Linked DNA regions of Homo sapiens: region 1 is linked to region 2. Evidence: fine-mapped expression QTL. A gene starts in region 2. The other region holds a variant in brackets. All regions are shown on one strand. Distances are from middle to middle. Region 1 overlaps SLC9A7 (solute carrier family 9 member A7). Region 2 holds the start of CHST7 (carbohydrate sulfotransferase 7).

The links.
Region 1: its variant is fine-mapped to the expression of CHST7 in whole blood (TOPMed, PIP above 0.99).

The regions. Positions count from the first base shown.
Region 1 is chrX:46,622,221-46,633,163 of GRCh38, reverse strand. SLC9A7 (solute carrier family 9 member A7) reads left to right here. Exons shown (of 17, transcript NM_001257291.2): 14 at 1,515-1,578. It overlaps LOC124905182 (a long non-coding RNA gene), which reads right to left. Exons shown (of 2, transcript XR_007068222.1): 1 at 8,807-10,943; 2 at 6,258-7,901. Among named protein-coding and RNA genes, the nearest start is that of CHST7, 54 kb to the right of the region's middle. The variant C/T (reference allele first, on the strand shown) is at 6,333.
Region 2 is chrX:46,567,852-46,578,794 of GRCh38, reverse strand. It overlaps CHST7 (carbohydrate sulfotransferase 7), which reads right to left and starts at 5,030. Exons shown (of 2, transcript NM_019886.4): 1 at 3,372-5,030. The coding sequence starts at 4,863. The coding sequence ends at 3,403. RefSeq lists silencers at 3,783-3,842, 3,963-4,012.

The sequences.
Region 1 (10,943 bases), 54 kb before region 2:
GCATTTCATACTTGGTTGATATCAAGTGGCTGCCGTGAAGGTCGGAACTTCCATGGCAGATATAGGATTTTCCTGGCATCTTTTTTCTTTCCCCCATTGCCCAGTGTTATCCATGTCATCCATGGCACAGTATCCTGCCTCAGAATGAGGAAGGTGCAAGGATAAAAAAAAAAATTGCCAGATGCATAGAGTGCCAGTTAGTATGTTTCTAAGCCAAGACAACTGCCCTGGTGCTTTTATAGTATTTGTTATAAATGAGTCCTGCCATTTTGCTTTTTCTTTCTGTCTTTAGTTGTTGCTCTCAAATGTGTGAGTTCTCAAGGCTATCTTGATGCAAGAGGGTATAGGGGCACCAGGATTGAAAGCAGGTCAGGACTCTAATTAATGATATTGTTAAAGAAAACATTATTCTGATGTATATTTAAACAGTAAGGCAGACGTTGTTCAGGACCATCACGATTGGAATAGGGACCACTGTGATGGGGTTTTGCAGCAGGGGAGAGAAACGGGTCAGTGGATAGGGAAGTACTGAGAGGAAATATCAGGGGCAAGGGGGATTCTGGCTAAACTGACCCAATAGGATTCTTGCTGAAGACAGGCGAAGGGGATTAGACACCACCTGAGGGATTGTGGGGGGATGAAGAATCCAATCAGATGTTGGGGATAGGCCATTCAGATGTTGGGCTGTGGCCAAACCAACTTAGACAATCAGACATCACCTGAGGGATTGTGGGGGGATGAAGAACCCAATCAGATGTTCGGTTCTGGCCAAACCAACTTAGCAAACCTCTTGCTAAAATTGGGCTATGCTGAGATGGACATGGAAGCCCAAAAGTCAGTGCCTAGTTGGGAAGTGAATTCCTAGGAGCCTGACTAAAGTTTGGTCAAGGAGAGACTCTTTGTCAATATGCACGTGAAGTATTTAGGGGAAGTATTCTGATGTCTGCAACTTTATCTGAATGTATCCAAAGAAAAAGTAAGATGGGTGATAGAGAAATGGATAGATAGGTAATAAGGAATATACAGTAAAATGTTAATGGTAGAGTCTAGTGATGGTGGGTATATAGGGGTTCACTCTAAAGTCTTTCAACATCTCCCTGTATATTTGAAAAAGTTTATAACAGAATGTTAGAGAAATTAAAGCAGGCCAGGGCAGAAGTGAGGAAGCAGCACAAAGGAAGGGCCCAGTGCAGTGAGACCCCCATTTTGATAACTGGGACCACCTGGTGCAGAAAAGCAAGTGGACAGTTGCCAGCATGTGTTGTGTTCCGGCGGCCTTGCTTAGAGTGTGAGCACATGGGATTCATCGCCCCTCTGACCCTCTGGGATCTGAAGTGGTATGCGACCTCTTTCTTATGACTTCTGCATGACAGCTTTCCTCACCTTTTAGCTAACCACTCCTTATGCTTCGGGAAGATGATTAGCCTCCAGGCTACTTGCAGCCTGCATGGCTACCATGGGCCAAGCTAATACGCTCTGTTTTTCTCTTTGTCTTTCTCCCTGGTGACTTTCAGAGTTGGTGTTGACCCCGATCAAGACCCACCACCCAACAACGACAGCTTTCAAGTCTTACAAGGGGTAAGTCACAAGAGATGCTTCTTCCTGGGGAAGACATTTGAGCATTCGCCACATGCCAGGCACTTTACCTAGATTCCCTCAATGTGATCCTGACAACAGCCTTATGAAGCGTGTACTGCTCTCCCCATTTTACAGATTAAAAGTTGAAGTTTGGGAGTTTGAGTCATCTCAGAATAAGTGATGGAGCCAGGATTTGTCCCCAGGGTATGTGTTCTTAATCAACATTATGAAGGGTGTGGGCTCGCCAGAAAGAGTCCCTGACTCTCCACTTTTCAATAGTGGATATTGGTTCTACAACTGGTTCCGAGTCTATCAGTGGTGCCCAGGAGAAAGAGAGCAATACGATTTGACTCTCCAGCCCAGGGATCTGAGGAAGAAAGGAGAGACATCAGGTGCCTGAAGGCATTCCTGTTTCTCCAGGGCCTGGGATCCTCTAGGTGAGCAATTTGGAAAGGGCATAGCAGGGACGGCTTGCCTTTTCTCCATGAAGTCCACGGCCCCAGGTGGGAAAACCAGGAGCCTGGGGCTGGAATCATGCAAAGGTTCATTTACTCATATGTCTGGCACCTGGGCTGGAAGGACCCAACCACAAGGACTTCTGACAGGAATGTCTGTGCAGGGCTTTTCCATGTGGCCTGAGCTGCCTGCCAGCATGGTGGCTGCTGGGTAGTTGGATTTCTTATGTGATGGCTTAAGGTTCCAAAAGCAAGTGTCCCAGCAAGCAAGGTAGAGGCTATATCACCTTTTCTGACCTAATCTTGCAAGTTCTACAGCATCACTTCCGTGGCTTTCTATTGCTTAGAAATGCATTCCTAAGACCAGCCCAGACCCAATGGGAGGGGATAGAGACCATAACCTCTGGATGGGAAGAGTATCAACAAATTTACAGACAAGAATTGAGGTTGCCATATCATCCCTGTTGTGCAGCTGTCGGGATGATTTTGTCTCTAGGTCTGGCTCTTTATCCAGGTCAGCATGACCTGGGCAGGCAAGGTGGGGAAAGGAGAGTTATGATAGGGGCAGAAATGTGTTACCAATATATTATTTGACCTTGGGAGTCAATAACTATGTCGTTCAGCATTGAATGCCCAGTGCTGAGCACAGTGGCTGGCACATGCAGGAACCTGATAGGTGTTTGTTGGGTGGATGAGGGAATGAGAGAGATGCAGCATGCAACAGGCAGCTTTACTGACCACCTGTGTATGTTGTCCATGAAACCCTATTCTTTTTTTTCCAGTCAGCTTTGAATCTGACTCATCATTGCACTTAATCCTGCAGCAGTCTGCAGCAGACTTCACATTCCATAGGATCTTCTAAATGATTCCATCTACCAAATCAGATTTAATAAGGCTGGCAAAATGTGGTGCTGTGTGGGGTCAATGGGGTGCCACTGTGGCCTTTTGTGGTTTCTTTCTCTTTAAGGGTGGCCACAGCCTGATAAGGCATTTATAGCATTGATGTCCATTCTAGGTCCCTGCTCAAGGGACACAAAGCCATGACCTGGAAAGTTCTGGACATTTTGGGAAGAGTTTTCAATAAGCTTCATTGGAGATTTGGCACCCACTTTAATGAGCTCCAGAAGACCTTTGAGATGATCTTAGAATTGGCCATTATGTCAGTTGGGAGCATGTGGTCTCAGTGAGTTCTCTTTGAAAATTTGCTATTTGACTCTAGCTTTGATTAAGGACTTTAGAAAACAGGAGTTCAGGAACTGAGCACCTCGAGGCTAATTTAGAGTATAACAGTTTGGGAGATCTTGAAACTCAGCCTGAGAAAACCCCAGGGGAAAACATGATGGCCGTCCTTATTTCACCAAAGGAAAGATAATGGCTCTGGTAGGACATGGCTGCCCTATTCTAAAGCATCCTCCACAGAACTGTGGCCAGTCTAGATTAATTTTGTAAGAAAAAAAGGCCAATAGCAGCTGGATCATAAGATTTGGAGAGATTTCATCTTGCTCTGGACCATTCAAAACATCCCCACCCCCTTTGCTGTTTCCCATTGCTCCTACCTCTGCATTCAAGCATCTGTAACAGGAAATAAGTGAAAGGATTTGGCTGGTCATGTAGTAGAACTTACTATGTATCACATGAGCCCTGCGCACTGGGAACACTGGGCTTGTAATTAGATTCAGTAACAAGCTTACTGTCACTTTTCTGTGGAAATGTTTGAGTGAGAAAGCAGCAGGTCCAAAGTGCTGAGGGTTCTTGTATTTAGTCCATGCAGTAACAGCTAAAATAGCCCCCACCCCCAGGTGGAGTGAGTCTCAGGAACCTCCCTGGATGGGCCTGGATGGATGAACTCAGTGTTCCTGTCAGCTCCCAGAGGGCCCCTTGGGCTGAGAGCACCGCACATGTGGTGTTGTGAACGGGCTGGCAGCCACTCGCGCTGCACTCCTAATGGCACCCTGTTTGCCACAGCCCTAGCCAGAAGCTGTGTCACAGCTTCCCCCTGACCTCCTTCCTTCCAGACCTCATACACAGTCATGCAGAGGGCCCCTCAAAGTCAGTTCCACTGACCTTTTGAAAGGTTTTCAAGATTGCTGTCATATGGGGAAAAACATGCAAACTTCAAGCTTGGTTCTCCAGGACACCCTCTTAGAAATGACTCACGCCCTTGTGCAGAGAGGACCTTATTTCTCCAGTTCCTCCTGGTCTGACCTCCTCATTCTAGTGAGCCACTAACAGCAGGGCTCAGTGCACTCTGTGGCCATGAGAAACAGGAAAACAGAAATAAATGGGCTTCTCATTTTTGGGTGAAACCCTGGGTTCTTGCAGTTTCCCCTGAAATAGATCCAGGTCACATGCTCAGTGTTGTCATGAAACTGAAATCAGAGGTAGGGAAAGTCCAGATGTTTGTTCTCCACCAGAGAAAAAAAAGGGCGGTTCTCTTTACCTCATTTTCTAAATAATCTTCCTAAAAACAACAAACAAAAAAGTGACATTTGATGGGAAGGCATGTCTTATAATGAGCACAATTCTCCTCACTGGTCTTGAAGCCCAAGGCTATAAACAGAGTCATGGCTAGGGAGCTACAGAATATTAGCTCATGTGGGAAAAGGAAGGGAGCTGTTGGCTAGAACTTTGCTTCATGTGGGGAAAGCATAAAAATATTGTGGGCAGACTTCAGCTTTGTGTCCCCTGGTAAGTTTGACTCATTAGAACAAAACAAGACAAAAAAAACAAAAAACAAAAAACAAAACTCAGTGCTTTGTTTCTCTGGAGGTCTTGGTGACTTTGCAACCAAAACAAAAACAACCCTAGCTGGAGGCAAGCTGCCCAGCCCTGGGGGTGGCCTCCCACCCCGATAAAGCAGGGGACTTTTCATGCCAGACCAGACAGCTGAGATTTCTGTTGGCCGTACATGCAGACACATCATTCACTTCCTTCCCTGAGTTTACAGAAGAGCACTCATTGATGAGGCCACTTTGGAGCAGCTAAGAGTGTGAATCTGAATTTATCCCAGTTTCACCATATCAACAGGACAAGGTCACAAGCCGGATATTAATGGAGTGTGGAGGAAAGGAAACCACCAATGCCTGTGTATATGCACACGTGTGTGCGTGTCTGTCTGTGTGTATGTAGTGAAAACTGTAGAAAATCAGCAGTTTATTGTTGCGTTCACATATGACTTTCTGAGCAAGTTAGAATCATTTGTTTCTGGGTCCTCCGTGTTTTTTTTTGTTTGTTTTTGTTTCTCCAGGCTGAAATCTGATACCCGTAAATCTGTCACCTAAATCTTTAACTTCAAACAGTTGCAGAGGTGCCTTTCCTCCAGTTGCTACTCTGTGACCACCGCCCCCCCCCCAACCCGCCCATTTTTTTGTGCTTCCAAGTGCCTCCCTTGGCCCCTGATTTCCCTTTCTGCTCTTCCTTTTCTGTTTTCTAAAAACTCAGAGTCAAGATCAATTTATTCATTTATTTGACAAATAGTTATTGAGCACCTGTTCTATTTCAGGCATTCTTTCAGGTTCTGGGAAAATATCTGCAACAAGGTAGATGAATCTGCATCCTGAAGGGCTTGGTGACAAGGTGATAAAGGGTGAGGGTGGAGAGTGGCAGAAGCAAGAGAGTGGAGACACTCAGGCCTCACCAGCCCCACTGAAGCAGAATCTGCATTTTAACAGTGTCTCCAGGGAATGTGTGTACATTTTACCATTAGAAAAGCCCTGATCTAGGCAATGTATAGCTCTGGAGAGTTTTAAGCAGGGAAGAAAACTATCTGTGTATCACGGTCAGAGATTTGACTCTGGTTTTTTTTTTGTTTTGTTTTGAGACAGGGTTTCCCTCTGACGCCAAGGCTGGAGTGCAGTGGTGCAATCACAGCTCATTGCAGCCTTGACCTCTTGGGCCCGAGGGATCCTCCTCCCTCGGCCTCCTGAGTAGCTAGGACCACAGGTGTGTGCCACTTCACCAAGCTAATTTATAAAATATTTTTCTAGAGACAGGGTCTTGCTTTGTTGCACAGGCTGGTCTCAAACTCCTGGGCTCAAGTGATCTTAACCCTCCCAAAGTGCAGGGATTACAGGCATGAGCCCACTGCCTGGCTGATTCCCTGTTTCTAAACCCTATTATTACCCTCTGCTGAGAAATCTTGGATCCATTATCCCAATGATATGACAAAGGCCCTGTATTAGTCCATTCCCACACTTCTATAAAGAACCACCTGAGGCTGGGTAATTTATGAAGAAAAGGTTTAATTGACTCATAGTTCTGCAAGCTGTACAGGAAGCATAGCTGGGAGGCCTCAGGAAA[C/T]GCACAATCATAGTGAAGGCAAAGGGGAAGCAAACACATCTTACCATAGCGGAGCAGGAGAGAGAGAGAGCAAGGGGGAAGTGCCGCACACTTTTAACCAGATCTCGTGAGAACTCACTCACTATCACAAGAACAGCAAGGGGGAAGTCTGCCCCCATGATCCAGCCACCTCTTACCAGGCCCCACCTCCAACGCTTAGGATCACAACTTGAGATGAGACTTGTGGGGGTACACAGAGCCCAAACATACCAGGCCCAGGCCGGGCGTGGTGGCTCACACCTGTAATCCCAGCACTTCGGGAGGCCAAGGCAGGTGGATCACCTGAGGTCAGGAGTTCAAGACCAGCCTGGCCAACATGGCAAAACCCCATCTCTACTAAAAATACAAAAATTAGCTGGGCATGGTGGCAGGCACCTGTAATCCCAGCTACTTGGAAGGCTGAGGCAGGAGAATCGCTTGATCCCGGGAGGCGGAGGTTGCAGTGAGCCGAGATCACACCACTGCACTGTAGCCTGGGTGACACAGCGAGACTCCATGTCCGAAAAAGAAAAAAAGCATATCAGGCCCAAATCAAGTGACATCATTTATTTACTCTTCTGCTCCATATTAGTTGTCTGTGACTGCTGTAACAAATTACCACAAATTTAGTGGCTTAAAACAATAAAGTTTTGTTTTTGTTTTTGTTTTTTTTTAAGGGACAGAGTTTCACCATGTTGGGGCTGGTCTTGAACTCCTTGGCTCAAGTGATCTGCCTGTCTTGGCCTCCCAAAGTGCTGGGATTATAGGCATGGGCCACCATGCCCAGCCAAAACAATACAGTTTTGTCATCCTTACAGTTCAGTAGATCAGATACCTGGTGGGCTCAGCTGGTTTCTCTGCTTCAAGTTTTTCAAGGTGTTGGCAAGGCTAAGCTCTGGGGAGAAGCCACTTCCAGGCTCATTCAGGTTGTCAGTAGAATTCAGTTCCATGTGGTTGTAGGACTGAGGTCCTGTGTTCTTGCTGCAAAGCCAGCAACAGTGGGGCAAGTCAAGCTCTGAATCTCTCCCGCCCTTTCTTCTACTGCATTCCTTCCTCTGACTCTTTTGCCCTCCATGTCCTTTTTTTTTTTTTTTTTTTTTGAGAGAGAGACAGTCTTGCTCTATTGCCCAGGCTGGAGTGCAGTGATGTGATCTCAGCTCACTGCAACCTCCACCTCCCAGGTTCAAGCAATTCTTGTGCCTCAGCCTCCTGAGTAGCTGGGATTACAGGTGTGTGCCACCACACCCAGCTAATTTTTGTATTTTCAGTAGAGACCGGGTTTCGCCATGATGGCCAGGCTGGTCTTGAACTCCTGACCTCAAGTGATCTGCCCACCTCAGCCTCCCAAAGTTCTGGGATTACAGGCGTGAGCCACTATGCCTGGCCCTCCTTGTCCACTTTTAAGGGCCCACGTGATTGTCCTGGGCCTACCTGGATAACCTTAAGTCCATCCACAAAGCCTTTTGCCAGGTAGTGTAACAGGATCCAGGGATTAGGCTGTAGAAAGCTTTGGTGGGGTGGCCATTATTCTGCCTACCACATGCTCCATCCCTGAAAAAAAAAAAAAAAGTAAGCTGTTCTTATTAGTGTAATGACCTTATCTTTTAAAAACATCTTTTAATATTATATAAGAATGGAATGAAATGTAACTCTACACAGATATCATTATGCATTCATTCTAGAAAAATTATTTCAAAAATAGGACTGTTTGCTATTCCCCAGTTCTTTAATCAGCTTTCTTTTTCTTCATTATATTTGTCAGTCAATATGTATTTGTCTGTCTCCCCTCCCCCTACCCCCCAACCCTCGCCACCTTCACCTTCTGGAAAGAGTGCTCCTTGAGGCCCAGGTGCTAAGTTACATTCCTCTTTGTGTTTCCAGCACCCAGCATGGTGCCTGGCACATAGTAGGTGCTTAATGAATGCAGAAGAAATAGACACTCATTGTTACATGCTCAAAAAATGATAATAAGCAGGGTTGGTGGTATTTTCTTGAAGGGGCTTCTCTATTAATAATGGCAGTAAAAAGATGAAAATTCCTTGTGTAAAAAGCCACACAAGATAGCCAAATGATGTTAATGGCTAGGCGTTTTTTTCCCCCAAACAAATATGTGCTTGAAATTACATATCCAGTCTTTGGAAATGAACTTAATTAGTAATATGAGCTCTAACTACATGCCAGATTCTGGGTTAAATATTTCACAAATATTTAATCAGCACAAAAAGTCACATGGCAAACAATAATGAGTCAATATTTGTTGAGTGCTTGCCACATATCAGACACCATCCTAAGTTCTTTAAATGAAAAATCTTTTACAGTTCTAAAATTAAAACCTATTTTCTCTACATTCACACCACTTTTAATGCCAAATATGTAGGGTCTTTTTGTATACCAGCCAGTTCTCCAATTCCCAATGAGTACCAACTGGACCTCCTACAGTTTAACTCACTACGTACCTGGAGTTAGCGTCAGATCCCACAGGTTAAGGACTCAGTCCCACAAGACTGTCCCCACTTCAGACACCAGTTGCAAGTCCCAGGTCGTGACCTGTACTTCAGACTGACTGGCTATAGGGGGGGGTTCCCAACCCCTCCTCAGGTTCGATAATTTGCTAGAATGACTCACAGAACACAACTTTTACCATTACCAGTTTGTTATAAAGGATACAACTCGGAAATAGCCTAATGGAAGAGATGCATAGGGCAAAGGATGGGGATGGGAGTATGTGGCGCCAACTTGGAAGCCCTCCAAATTGTGTCATTTAGGGTTTTATGGAGGTTTCATTACATAGGCATGGTTGATTAAATTAGTAGCCATTGGTAATTAACTCAATCCCCAGTCCTCCCCTCCTAGGAGGTTGGGATGGGGCTAAAAGTTCCAATCCTCTAATTACATGGTTGGTTTCTCTGGCAATCAGTGTCCATTCAAGAGTCACCTTATTAGCATAAATTCAGGTGTGCTTGAAAGGAGCTTATTATTAATAAAAAAAGATGTTCCTCCCACCCCATCTACTCAGGAAATTCCAAGGGTTTTAGGAGTTTTATGTCAGACAAAAACCAGATATATATTTCTTGTTCTATCACAACATTACAGCCTCATAATGCCCCTAGAGGTAGGTAATTATTAATATTTCCAGTTTACAGATGAGGATACTGAAGCACAGAAAGGTTAGGTAACTTGCCCAGCATCACACAGCAAGACAATGGCAGCGGCACAGTCAGGAGCCAGATAGTCTCTTGAGAGAGCCTGTGATATCCACACCTACACTTCTTGGAGTGCTATGTCGCTTTTGAAACATTTCTTAGAGAAGCCACGCTTCTGCACAGGCTTGAAAGGTGAATAGAGGTTGGCCGGGTAGGTGTTCTGGGTGGGAGAAGGTGAGAGGAAAAAAGAATGCTCCAGGCCCTAGAAGTTGCCTGAGCTGAAGACATGAGGTGCGAACCCAGGTTTTGAGGAGGGGCGAGTTGAGAGAGCAAGTCTGTGCTTTTTCTGTGGACGGCACAGGAGTGGAAAATCCAAGAGTCGCCAAGTACAGCCAGGAAGGAGGCTCCGCCTGTTCCCACAGTGACCCTTCCTCAGTCCGGTGCTGTTCGGAGCCCACAGGAAGGGCTCTCAATGGCTTCTCTGTGACAGCAGCCCCAATCATGTCATGAAGCAGTTATTGCTTGTCTTCCGGGTCAGCTTTAAAAAATTAGTTCTGTCCCACAGAACTGCCCTGATTTCCCCAAAGCCACCATATGTGGATTTATCTAAGTTCTTCCTATACCTAATCATGCTTCTGGCACCATCTCTTGGAATAAGAAGTTGTTTAACACCCTTTTCACAAAGTTACACCTTTGATTTGTCCTGAATTTACCCCTTGTAGCCTCTAAGCGTTGTTTCTTAGTTCTTACATTTCGGGATTTGCTGTGGAGTCTGAGGTCACTTTATCTTATTCATGGATTGCAGGCATATCTTTCCGTAGCCTGAGAAGACCTTTTGTTAGTTTGCTGTCAAACCATTCCCTTGCTTTACTCATTTTAATTGTCTTTTTTGGGGCTTATATAAGTCTCTTGTAGCTTTCTTTTTTTAAATTTAACTTTTAACTTCCGGGGTTCTTGTAGCTTTCTTGAGATTAAATGGCAAGAAATTAAGTAGTCCAGTGATAATAAATGCTTTGTGGTTTTGCAGAGGTTAAGATGACAGAGTAGGGTTCATTGTTTTCATCATTGATTTAAGGGAAGAAGCGGAAGAAACTGACTTTGGGGTACTCGTTTTGTGCCTGATGGTTTAATAGTATCCTTCCTGATGATGTTTATCGTTGTGCTGGCTTTTTCCTTAGTAAAATTCTACAGGCACTTAGAACTGAGAACTTAGAGCCTATTACTTTATAAAGAACCATTTGATTTTTTCCATTATATATTTGCCTATCAAAAAAGTCATCTGCTACTTTTCTACTCAGTCATGTGGCATTTTGGAATCTTCCCAGAGTTGTCATTGGGTTAGCAATCAGTCACCCTGCAAATGGAGGCATTTCTGTGCTCTCTCTCTTGCTCATGATTTATAAAAATGTAAAATCAAATTGGTCTCTGGGGTCTCTCCTTGTTTATATTT
Region 2 (10,943 bases):
TAGCTAATGAGACATAAAGGGACGTCGGCTGGTAAAGGGGGTTCTGGGAAAGGTGTTATAATTTATTAAGGCTGGGTGCAGTGATTCACATCCATAATCCCAGCACTTTGAGAGGCCGAGGCAGGCAGATAGCTTGAGCTCAGGAGTACGAGACTAACCTGGGCAACACAGTGAGAGCCCCCACTCCCCGCCCATCCCCAATCTTTGCAAAAAAAAAATTTCTTTTAATGAGATTGAGTGGTGGTGTGCACCTGTAGTCCCAGCTACTTGGGAGGCTGAGGTGGGAGGATTGCTTAACCCTGGGAAGTTGAGGCTGCAGTGAGCCATGACATTGCACTCCAGCCTGGGTGAAAGATTGGATGTGGTGGTACGCACCTGTGGGCCCAGATGCTTGGGAGGCTGAGGTGGGAGGATCACTTGAGCCTGGGAGGAGGAAATTGCAGTGAGCCAAGATTACACCACTGTACTCCAGCCTGGGTGACAGAGTAAGAGCTGCCACTCAAAAAAAAAAAAAAAAAAAAAAAAGAGCATGGCAGGAGGAAAAACCCCTCCACCCCTTACTGGCTAGATAGCTTCCTTCCTTTCTGTATTTTAATAACCCTGTGTCGTTGTGTGAAGATGTTTTGCTTGGAGCTGTGGCTACCATCTTGTTACAGTGGGAAGATAAGCCAGTGAATGAAAGCCAAGATGTAAAAGATAGAAAGGGCCTAGGTCCTTGGTGACTTGGTTCAGGGTGCTACGGCCCCTACCCAGACCAGAAAAAACTTCACTGACTCCCTCACTGCCAAATCCTGGCCATTGGGTATGGACCATCCAGAAGTTACTCAGGTTAATTCACATGTGGCCTCTCTCCTCAGTTGAGCTGAGGGCACCCTGAGATGCCCTGTGGGGAGGATGGCTGTAAAGTTGTCGGCTTTCCTGTGTAGGCACTGTCGGCAGCTCAGGGATATTTTATTTGTTCAGTGGTTGGGACATATTAGTAATAAAGCTGAGTGTGTTTTCCACCTCATACTAGCCTAGCTGGAGTATCAGGGTGCTGCCAGGGAATGCCAAGGCAGGGGCCAGGTGAGGTATAAAAGAGAGGATTATGAGCTCTGGAGTCTAACACCAAACACTGTTCCACCCTCACCAGCCCAGGTATGACTTTGGGCAAATTACTTCTCTGAGTCTCGGATTCCTCATCTGGAAAACTGGTATAAATAATGATATATGTACAATGCCTAACTCAGTGCATGACACATAGCCCTTCAGTAAGGATCCCTCCCCCTCTCTTCTCCTCCCTTCTCTAGAATAGAGTGTGACAAACTTTTGGAAAACCCATCAGTGAGTCGGCAGTAACGTTATCTTCCTAGGAACCAAGAATACAAGCACTGTAATCAACCCACTGATTGGTGGTAAGTGCCCAATGCGGGAGGAAGGACTCAGTCACTAAAGTCTGGAAGAGCCTAAAGCTTGCTCCCAGATGTCCCTGCAGCCCTGCAAAGGAAGCCCCATCGGCCTTCCAAACAGCAACACCAGTGTCTTCCCTCACAGTCACTGTCACCCACACAGACTCTAACCTCCTAGAGGGCAAAGACTGTCCTCTACCCTCCTCTCTATTCTCTTTAATGCTTCACCCCAGCCAGTACTCAAATAGATGTTAGTAAAAATGAAAAAAAAAAAAAAAAAAAAGCAAAAGTTTCTGGGAGATTGTCATGTCTTAAAGCCATAAAATGCACAGCATTCCGCCCAGGGGAGGAGTTCCCTCAGGCCTGTGAAGAAGGGTTAGGGACAATTACTGTTATATCTGTAAATACAGGATCAGCAGATGAAAGGATGTTTTTGTTAAGATGTGACAAGTCACCCTGTGCCTTACCTTCCATCACTCTGGAAATCAGGAAAGAACACAGACTTCCTAGCAATTTCAGAAACTGACTAAGAAAACCATTTGATTACTGGGAGAAAAATTAGTTAGCCAGCTTCTGAAATCACTCTGAAACCCTGGTTCTGTAACAACAACAAAATCCCTCTTCATTAATATCTTCAACGTTTGTCCTCAGAGCTTCATCTCAGGGGAATGCTGAATTACACTATAAAATAATGAATGGAAACTTAACTCACTTCCGCCCACCCAGCACTACTTTTCCTCCTCCTCTGGACTGACTGCACAGTGCAGAAGGCGGCACCCTTCCAACTCACATAAAGTTTGGGGAAACACACTCCCATGTCACTAAGTAGACTCCTATGGTCAGCACTGTGCAGAACAAACCCTTCCCTCAGGCCATACACTGACCCACACAGAACACATTTTGAGACTGTTTAAGCCCCACTTTAGCATCTTCAGATATACAGAAAAAAACAAAAAACAAAAATGGAAAAACAAAAAAGAGGGGGCAGTGTCTTTTCACAAAGCTCCTCCTGCAGTCACAAACTGCTACTGCCAATTGAAGGCTCCATCTGTCAAACGGATGGGGTGGAGTGGGGGACACCCAACCCTGAGGTCTTGTCGACACTAGAGGAAGCTGACCAGGCAGCTTTTGTGACCTGATGTGAATGGGATATGGTCAAATATCCTGCAAACGCCAGCTACAGGGAGAAGGGGGAAGGGAGAGGAGGAGGGGAAGGGGGAGGAAGAGGAAGAGAGGGAGAGGGGAAATGAGAGAGGGAAGGAGGGGGAGGGGAGACAGAGAGGCGCACATGAGCCAGGGGAAAGCAAGTCTATTCACTACACAAGCGCCTGAGACACACAATGTGCAAGAAGTGTTGCAAGAGCCGCTGGACTGTGCCTGCATGTTTGGAAATTCAGGAGAAAAGCCCTGGAGCCTGCGCATAAAACAGACAGAGAAGAAACATGAAACAGAAAGATTAGGGATAGGTAGGGTTAGAATCAATGCCTTTCCACCAAACTCTCTGCTTTTGGCTTTCTCTGTGCCTGTAAACACCATTGCAAAGTCTCCTCACAGGACAAACTGGCATCAAGATAACTCCATAATCATCAACCTCAAATGGTTTCCGAAATCCTATACTCCACATGTCAATTCCCAGTCTCACGGCTCATTATGACTGTTTCAAACCTTCTCTACTCTCCTCAGCCCTCTGAAACCTCCTACTTCATACAGGGGAATGGGAATGCAGAGACCTGGCTTCCACCTCAGTCACGCCTAAATATCCTCTCTCATCTCAGGATCTCCCTCTAAGGAGGCGCGAGGCTAAGCTGGAGATTCCGATGAATCTACCAAATTCTACGAGCAGGACTTTCCCATCCTCTTGGACCTGATCTGATAGAATGGGATCCAGCATGGTACCCTCCCCCCTACACTTCCCCCTCCCCAGGCCATTCCAGGCTCCCGGAAGACCAGTCCCGGTCCCTGCCTTGCCCCGGGCCACCTTACCCGGATCCGTGCCGGGGACAGGGATGGGAGGCTACGTGGCGCCGTCGGCATCCATCTCCAGCGGCGTCTCCCCTTCCCTGGGCTGCTCCGCGTCGCCCTCCTCTCCGCTGCGAGGGTAGGCGAGCAGACGCATGGCTGGAGCGCAGGCGGCCTCCACCTGGCGCACCTGCTCTCGGCTCAGGCGCTCGCGCCAGGCGTGCACCGCCTCCCGGGCGTCGCGCGCTGACAGGTGGAAGGGCCGGTCGGCGCCGTAGGCCGCGCCGCGAGTCATGTTGAGCGCGAAGGCATCGAGCGCTGCGAGCGCGCGTAGCCCGGAGAAGCGCAGCAGGCGGCGCAGCTGGGCGCGTGGCTGCCGCACCAGGTCCTCATAGCGCAGCCTCAGGTAGCGGCGCCGCAGCCAGGCGGGCGCGCCGCGCGCGAAAAGCAGATCGCGCAGCCAGGCTTCGCAGATCACCTCGAGCGCACCGGTCAGGAAGAAATCGGCGCGCGGCGCGGCGGGCAGCGCGCGAGACTGGCCCCCGGGGCGAGCACCCACGCCGTGCGCCAGCAGCACACGGTGGAAGCGGTCGCCCCTCTGGCGGGTGCGCAGCACCTGGATGCTCTCGCGCAGCAGTCCCTGCCTAGACTTGAGGCGCGAGTTGTGCACCGCCCTCGGGTCGCGGAAAAGCTGCACCACCTTCAGGTTGAGGCCTGGATCACGCAACAGGGGCACCAGCACGCCCAGATCGAGCAGGCGCACGTCCTTGATGACCACCACCGGGTACTTTCGGCACTCGGCCTCCAGGGCGCGTATCGCCACGGGTGGGCAGCTGCGCTCGCAGGCGGTGTCCTCGACGAGGCCCACCTCGGCCCGGGCACGGGGTGCGCCAGGACACAGTGGCGGCGAGCAGATGACCTTGTTAGTCCGCCAGCGGAAGAGGGCGGCCGTGGTAAGATTGGCCGTGTCCGGGGCGCGCGCAGCGGGGTCCCCCGGCGGCGCGTACAGCCGCAGCACGGAGAAGTCGCAGCGGAAGAGCGAACGCAGCATGTCGCGCAGCGCGCCCTGCAAGCTCTCGGCGTCGCCCGGATACAGCGCCTGCCATAGATGCCACATGGGCTCATACAAGTAGAAAACGTCCGGGTGCTGGTTAAAGAGTTCGCCCAGGAAGGACGAGCCGGTGCGCCAGGTGGCATGCACGTAGATGTGCTGCTTCTCGCGAGACACTGCCTCCCCGACAGCGCCGCTGAGGTTGCTTGGGAACCGAGGAGACTGGTTCGCGCCCCCTTCCTCGGCGGCCCGCGCCTCCGCTCCCTGCTCGCGTTCGCCGGCCGCCGCCGCCTCCAGGCTCCACACTCCCAGGCTGCGCTGCAGGCCGGGGCAGTGCTCGGCGCCCTTGTCCCCGTCGCGGCCGCCGTCCAATACGGAGGGGACGAGCAACAGCACCAGCGTGTACAGCACCAACAGCAGCGCGAACTTGCAGTACTCTCGGCGTCGCCGCCGCCGGCCCTTCATCGTTCACCGACCCTCCAGAGCGGGTCGGGCGCCAGTCTTCTCCCGTTCCTCAGAAATCCCGTGCCAGGTCCGCTCCTGTGGCCTCTCCCGGCCCCTCTGCGCCGGGAGGAGCAGAGCCGCGGGGCCGCGCATCCACAAGGGGAAACTTGGAAGGCGGTGGTGCTACTGACGGCGCCCCTGCCCTCTCGGCTTAGCAGCCGGAGAGCCGCCTATTGGCCGGCTTGGCAGCCGCCCGCCCCGCCTTTCTGCCCGCCTGGGTTCGCCCACGGCTCTGCCAGATCTGGGCGGGGCTGTAGCGGGGCTGGGACGCCGGCTTACCCAGCCAGACCCCCACCTTTCCCCAAACCCTCCGTAATGAAGTCTTCATCAATGACTTCAGGCAAAGGAGGGGCCTGTGTGTACAGAATGTACCCAGTAAAGGGCCATAGACCCCACCCGGAGAAGGTCACTGCCTCTTCTGTTTTATGTCCCCTGCCTAGCCATCGCTATCCTAGGCAGATAAACACTCGCCACTATACATCCAGCGCCCCCATCAGCCCTGGAGTGGGTGTTACTGAGTTCCGGACTGAAAGATAGAAGATTGTACGTGGCAGAGCGGTCCAGGGGGGTTGGAGATACTACTGCATCCACGCAGCACATTTCATAAAGTCTAGCCTTTGTGAAATTCTAAGTGTTGTGTTCCTTAGGGTTTCACCAGCTGATGGGCTCTGCACATTTTACCAATACTCTGGGGCCCAGTTTGGTCATTTGTAAAATGTGAATAATTCTTAGTACCCATGTACCTCCTGGGATTGCGAGATTTGGGGGTTGTTACCACAGTATAACCCAGCCTATTCTGACACCTATGAGCAAAAGACATTTACAGAATCAAAGTGGTAGAATGGTGACCTTTCTCAGGAGCTCGGTGTTTAAAAGGACCCGTAAGAAGAAATGTGTACCCAAAGATAGATGAAAAAGAGACAGGAAGTCCAACAGGCAGATGAAGACTAGAGTTACTAAAATTCAAAACAGAACCAAAAAAGATACATTTTGCTCTGTTTCATCAGGCTAATGAATAAGGAAGTGAGAGCTTCCTTTCACCAGCTTGGGGAAGGTGTTGTAAAGTTAATAAAACATAGAAAGCATATCTACTTATCTCCACCAGGGGAAGGTGTTCAAATTGGAAGAGTGAGAACATATGCAATGCTCTCCACTGGTCTTTTTCATCACGGAAGCTACTCCACCTGTGAAACCACTGACTCAAGCATTTCGTTTTCTTTCCACAATTCCCCTCTTCTTCCAGCCAGTTGTTCAAATCTTCCCTATTCTCCAACCTCCACTTTTTGACCACCACCCCCACTTTCTTCTCAATTTTTCATATTCAGCTGAAAGATGCCATACCATTATTTTAATAACACTCCCTCCAATAAGCTAAACTCACGTGCCCTCTGCCTTTTCATTACTCATCTAGCAAAATCCCCCAAACCCTGCTTTTGGCTTTCTCTGTGCCTGCAAACACCACTGCGAAACATTTCTCCACAGGTGTGAGCCAGGCACAGTGGCTCACGCCTGTAATCTCAGCACTTTGGGAGCCCACAGAACAGATCAGCATCAAGATAACCTCATAATCATCAACCTGAAATGGTTGCTGAAATCTTAGGTTCTTCATGTCACTTCCCAGTCTCCAGTTCCATTATGATGATTTCAAACCTTCTCTAGTCTCCTCAGACTTCTGATACCCCTCTTCCCCCACCCACCTCTTCTCAGCACATGACCTTACTGCCTACTTCATAAAGAAACCATGTTAGACGATCTCTCACTTTTCCACTACCAAACTCATATATGCATTGACCTCTGTACACATCTCGTTTATAGCAAGGATATGATTTTGCAATATTAATCTACAACTTTCCCTTCTGTTTTCACTTTTCCCTCCTCTCTGGCTTTTTTAAAAAGCTTTGAGACAGGGTCTGGCTCTGTCACCCAGGCTGGAGTGCGGTGGCACTATCACCACTCACTGCAGCCTCAACCTCTCAAGCCCAAGCGATCTTCCTACCTCAGCCTCCCAAGCAGCTGAGACCACAGGCATGTGGACCACACCCAGCTAATTTTGTTTGTTTGTTTGTTTTTTGTAGAGACCGGGGTCTGTATGTTGCCCAGGCTGGTCTTGAACTCGTGGGCTCAAGTGATCCTCCCACTTCGGCCTTGTGCTGGGATTACAGGCCTGAGCTACTGTGCCTGGCCTCCTCTCATCTTTTAAGCAAGTAGGTGGCTCTGTGCTGGTGTGAGGGGAGAGGTGTGGCTGGGCAGAATGCAAATAGTTGCTGGTGTTTCCCGCTTCCCCCCACCCCCCGCCCTCCGCTCCAAAAGCCTCAACTCTGATAGTGGAAAGTGTGATAGGTTTTTTAAATAACCACAAAGTATTCCCCTCCTCTGTTTTGCCTTTGGGCAATGCCTTCCCATACTGACTCTGGGATGACCATGTGGCTTGCATTGGCCTGTGGGACAGTAGCAAACATGACACAGCAAAGGTTTGAAAAATACTCCTGCTGTGGGAATTGCCCTCATCCTGCTCTTTGGAACCCTGAGATCGGCTCGTGAAGAAGCCTGGGTTAGCAACATGGCTCAGAAAATAAGCCCTCCCAGCTGAGGCCCCCCACCCCCCAGACAAACAAGCCTGCTGACCGCCAGACAGGTGAGAAAGGAGATAGATCCTCGACCAGTGCTTCTCAAACTTTAATGCTTGAAGGCTCCTGTCAAAATGCAGAAAGTGGGCCTGGCCCAGTGGCTCACACCTGTAATCCCAACGCTTTGGGAGGCCGACGCGGGTGGGTATCCTGAGCCTAGGAGTTCAAGACCAGCCTGGGCAACATGGTGAAACCCCGTCTCTACCAAAAACACAAAAAAAGTTAACCAAGCATGGTGGCGTGCACCTGTAGTCCCAACTACTTGGAAGGCTGAGGCGGGAGGATCACTTGAGCCCAGGAGGTGGAGATTGTAGTGAGCCGAGGTCATGCCACTGCACTCCAACCTGGGTGACAGAGTGAGACCTCATCTCAAAAAAAAAAAAAAAGCAGAAAATGATTCATTACACCTAGGGTGGGGCCAGAGAGACTACATTTCTTTTCTTTCTTCTTCTCCTTCTTCTTTCTTCTTTCTTCTTCTTTTTTTAAATAGACAGGGTCTTCTCTCCCTCTGTCACCCAGGCTGGTGGAAGGCTGGAGTGCAGTGGCGTGATCATAGCTCACTGCAGCTTCAACTTCCTGGGTTCAAGCAATCCTTCTCATGCCTGGCTAATTAAAAAAAATTTTTTTTTAGGCTGGGCGCGGTGGCTCACGCCTGTAATCCCAGCACTTTGGGAGGCCAAGGCAGGCGGATCACGAGGTCAGGAGTTGGAGACCAGCCTGGCCAATATGGTGAAACCCCATCTATACTAAAAATACAAAAATTAGCCAGGTGTGGTGGCACATGCCTGTAGTCCCAGCTACTCGGGAGGCTGAGGCAGAAGAATCACTTGAACCCGGGAGGCAGAGGTTGCAGTGAGCCAAGATCGTGCCACTGCACTCCAGCCTGGGCGACAGAGTGAGACTCCATCTCAAAAAAAAAAAAAAAAATTGTAGGGTCTTGCTATGTTGCCCAGGCTGGTCTTGGACTCCTGGCCTCAAGCAATCCTCTTGCCTCGTCCTCCCAAATTGCTGGGATTACAGGCACGAGCCACTGCACTGGGTCCTGAGACTACATTTCTAATAAGCTCCTGGGTGCTTCTGATGCTCCTGGTCTGAGGACCACACTTAGAGTAGAAAGGTGCTACACCTTCCTGCCCTAACTGAGCTGACCCACCAAATTGTGAGAAATAATAGATGTAAGTTTTAGGGGTTTGTTTTGTAGCAAAAGCTAGCTGATATAAAGAAGGTGTGAGGGCTTAGACGAAATGTTTTGGAGAAGCAAAAGAAAGAGCAGCAGCACTCTAGTGCCCCCAACCCCACTGAGACATTTTCCTTAGGCTAGGAGGAGTGGGCAAAGGGAGAAGTCTATGGATCCTGCAGCCCAGGGCACCTGAACTCTTTTTCCTGGCAATGTGTCAGGGCAGAGCAGGAGTCAAAGAGAAGTGGCCACATGGTTCAGCTTGACAGAGATGATCAGGGGCACTGTGCCAAACCTTCCTGGGCCCCAGGCATAGCTTGGAAGCAGCAGAAGGGTCAAGTGACAGTGATGGAGACATCTCAGGGCAACTAGGTGAGCCAAAAACCCAATGATTCTAAGACCCCAGATCAAGAGTACATACAACCTTGGGAGTAGAGGAACCCTAGGAATTAATAAGGTCAATCAATGGTCTGTCATCCTAGCAGAAGGAAAACTCAATCAGAATTAAAGTTGTTTTCTATTAAGTGATTTCTATCACATCTAAGTTACTAGATCTGCTATCCATTTTTCACAATAGAGTGGTACAATAGAGTAGGCCCCGGTCCCTCCTATCAATCACCATTTCTCCTCCCTATTCAACTACACCCTCTCAACCAGATTATTTCCACTGATGTGAAAATTAAACAGTTTGATCTCTTTCTCTGTTTCTTCCTCTATCTCTCTCTCTTTAAAGTCCCATTTATTTGCATCCTCCTTTAGCATAGCTGCTGCTAACACATACAGTACCCTTGTGAGAATCAGAAAGTGCCCCCTCCAGACAGATGAATTGCAAGGGGGCTGACCCCATTCAAATAAGTACCCCTTCCTTCAGGCCACAGCCCCAGTCCAAGGTTAACAGCTTGAAGGCAGAACCTGGCCAGATTCTAGCCCGCTGTTGCATCTTTCTGCCAGGTACCCTCACTCTGCCCTTCTCCTACCCTTGTCCTGTTGCCACTGGTTTCTCTACCCACTCCTCACAGCCCAGCTTCTTAGTAGAGCTGTCTATACTAGTTCTCTCTGTGCTCTCATCTCCTACTCATTCTGTGGCAGGCCAGGTCTCCCTAACGGCTGAACAGGCAGGCCTCCCTAACAACTGTTTCAGCACTGAGTGGTTAAGCTAACTATTAAAAGCTAAGAGAGCCAGTGCCCTTATACAAAGGCTGGAAGGTAACAAAAGCACACCAAGAGTTTTGCCTAGGTCTTTCCTGGGCCTTGAAGCGTGACAAGAGAAGGAAGGAGTTCTTAACAGGACCCATTTAAGATTAAACAAGTTTCTCTGGGTGCAGTGGTTCATGCCTGTAATCCCAGCACTTTGGGAGGCCGAGGCAGGCAGATCACTTGAGGTCAGGAGTTCGAGACCAGCTTGGCCAACATGGTGAAAACTCGTCTCTACTAAAAATACAAAAATTAGCCGGGCGTGGCATGCACCTGTAATCCCAGCTACTTGGGAGGCTGAGGCAGGAGAATCACTTGAACCTGGAAGGCGGAGGTTGCAGTGAGCCGAGATTGAGCCACTGCACTCCAGCCTGGGCAATGAGTGAGACTGTGTCTCAAAAAAATAAAATAAAATTTAAAAAGATTAAGCACATGTTATTAGTGGTCTGAAGGAACTCCCCAAACCTCCATGATTTAGCAGGAGATAAGATAAGGGCAATCACCCCAGCACCTGGATCCATTTAGATTAAGTAAATTTACTGAGGCTCCAGAGGAAGGTCTTCAGGACTCAGACCTTAGTTATAGATTAGAAGAAGTTAATCACTTATGTCTTTAGATGAATGCACACTTACACGTAGACATGTAGCTTAGAAGGTATGTAAGCTCTGGAAAACTTTGTAATTTTGAGTTGGTCTGGTGATAATTTCCAGGCCTTCTCCCTGCACCTGGTTACAGAAATAAAAACTCTCTTCTTTCCCAGTTCACCTGCATCTTGTAATTGGGCTGAGAGAATAAGCAGTCCGACCCTCGGCTTGGTCCAGGAACAATTCCTCAGCACACTCCAATCTGAGTTCTGCCCCCATATTGCCACATCATCAGTTCTTTCTAAGCTTATCAATGGCTTCCATGGTTTTTTTTTTTTTTTTGAGTTTAGCTAGGATCACAGATTCACACCACCACTCCCAGCTAACTTTTTTATTTTTAATTTGTGTAGATACGGAGTCTTCCTATGTATTCCAGACTGGTCTCCAATTCCTGGGCTC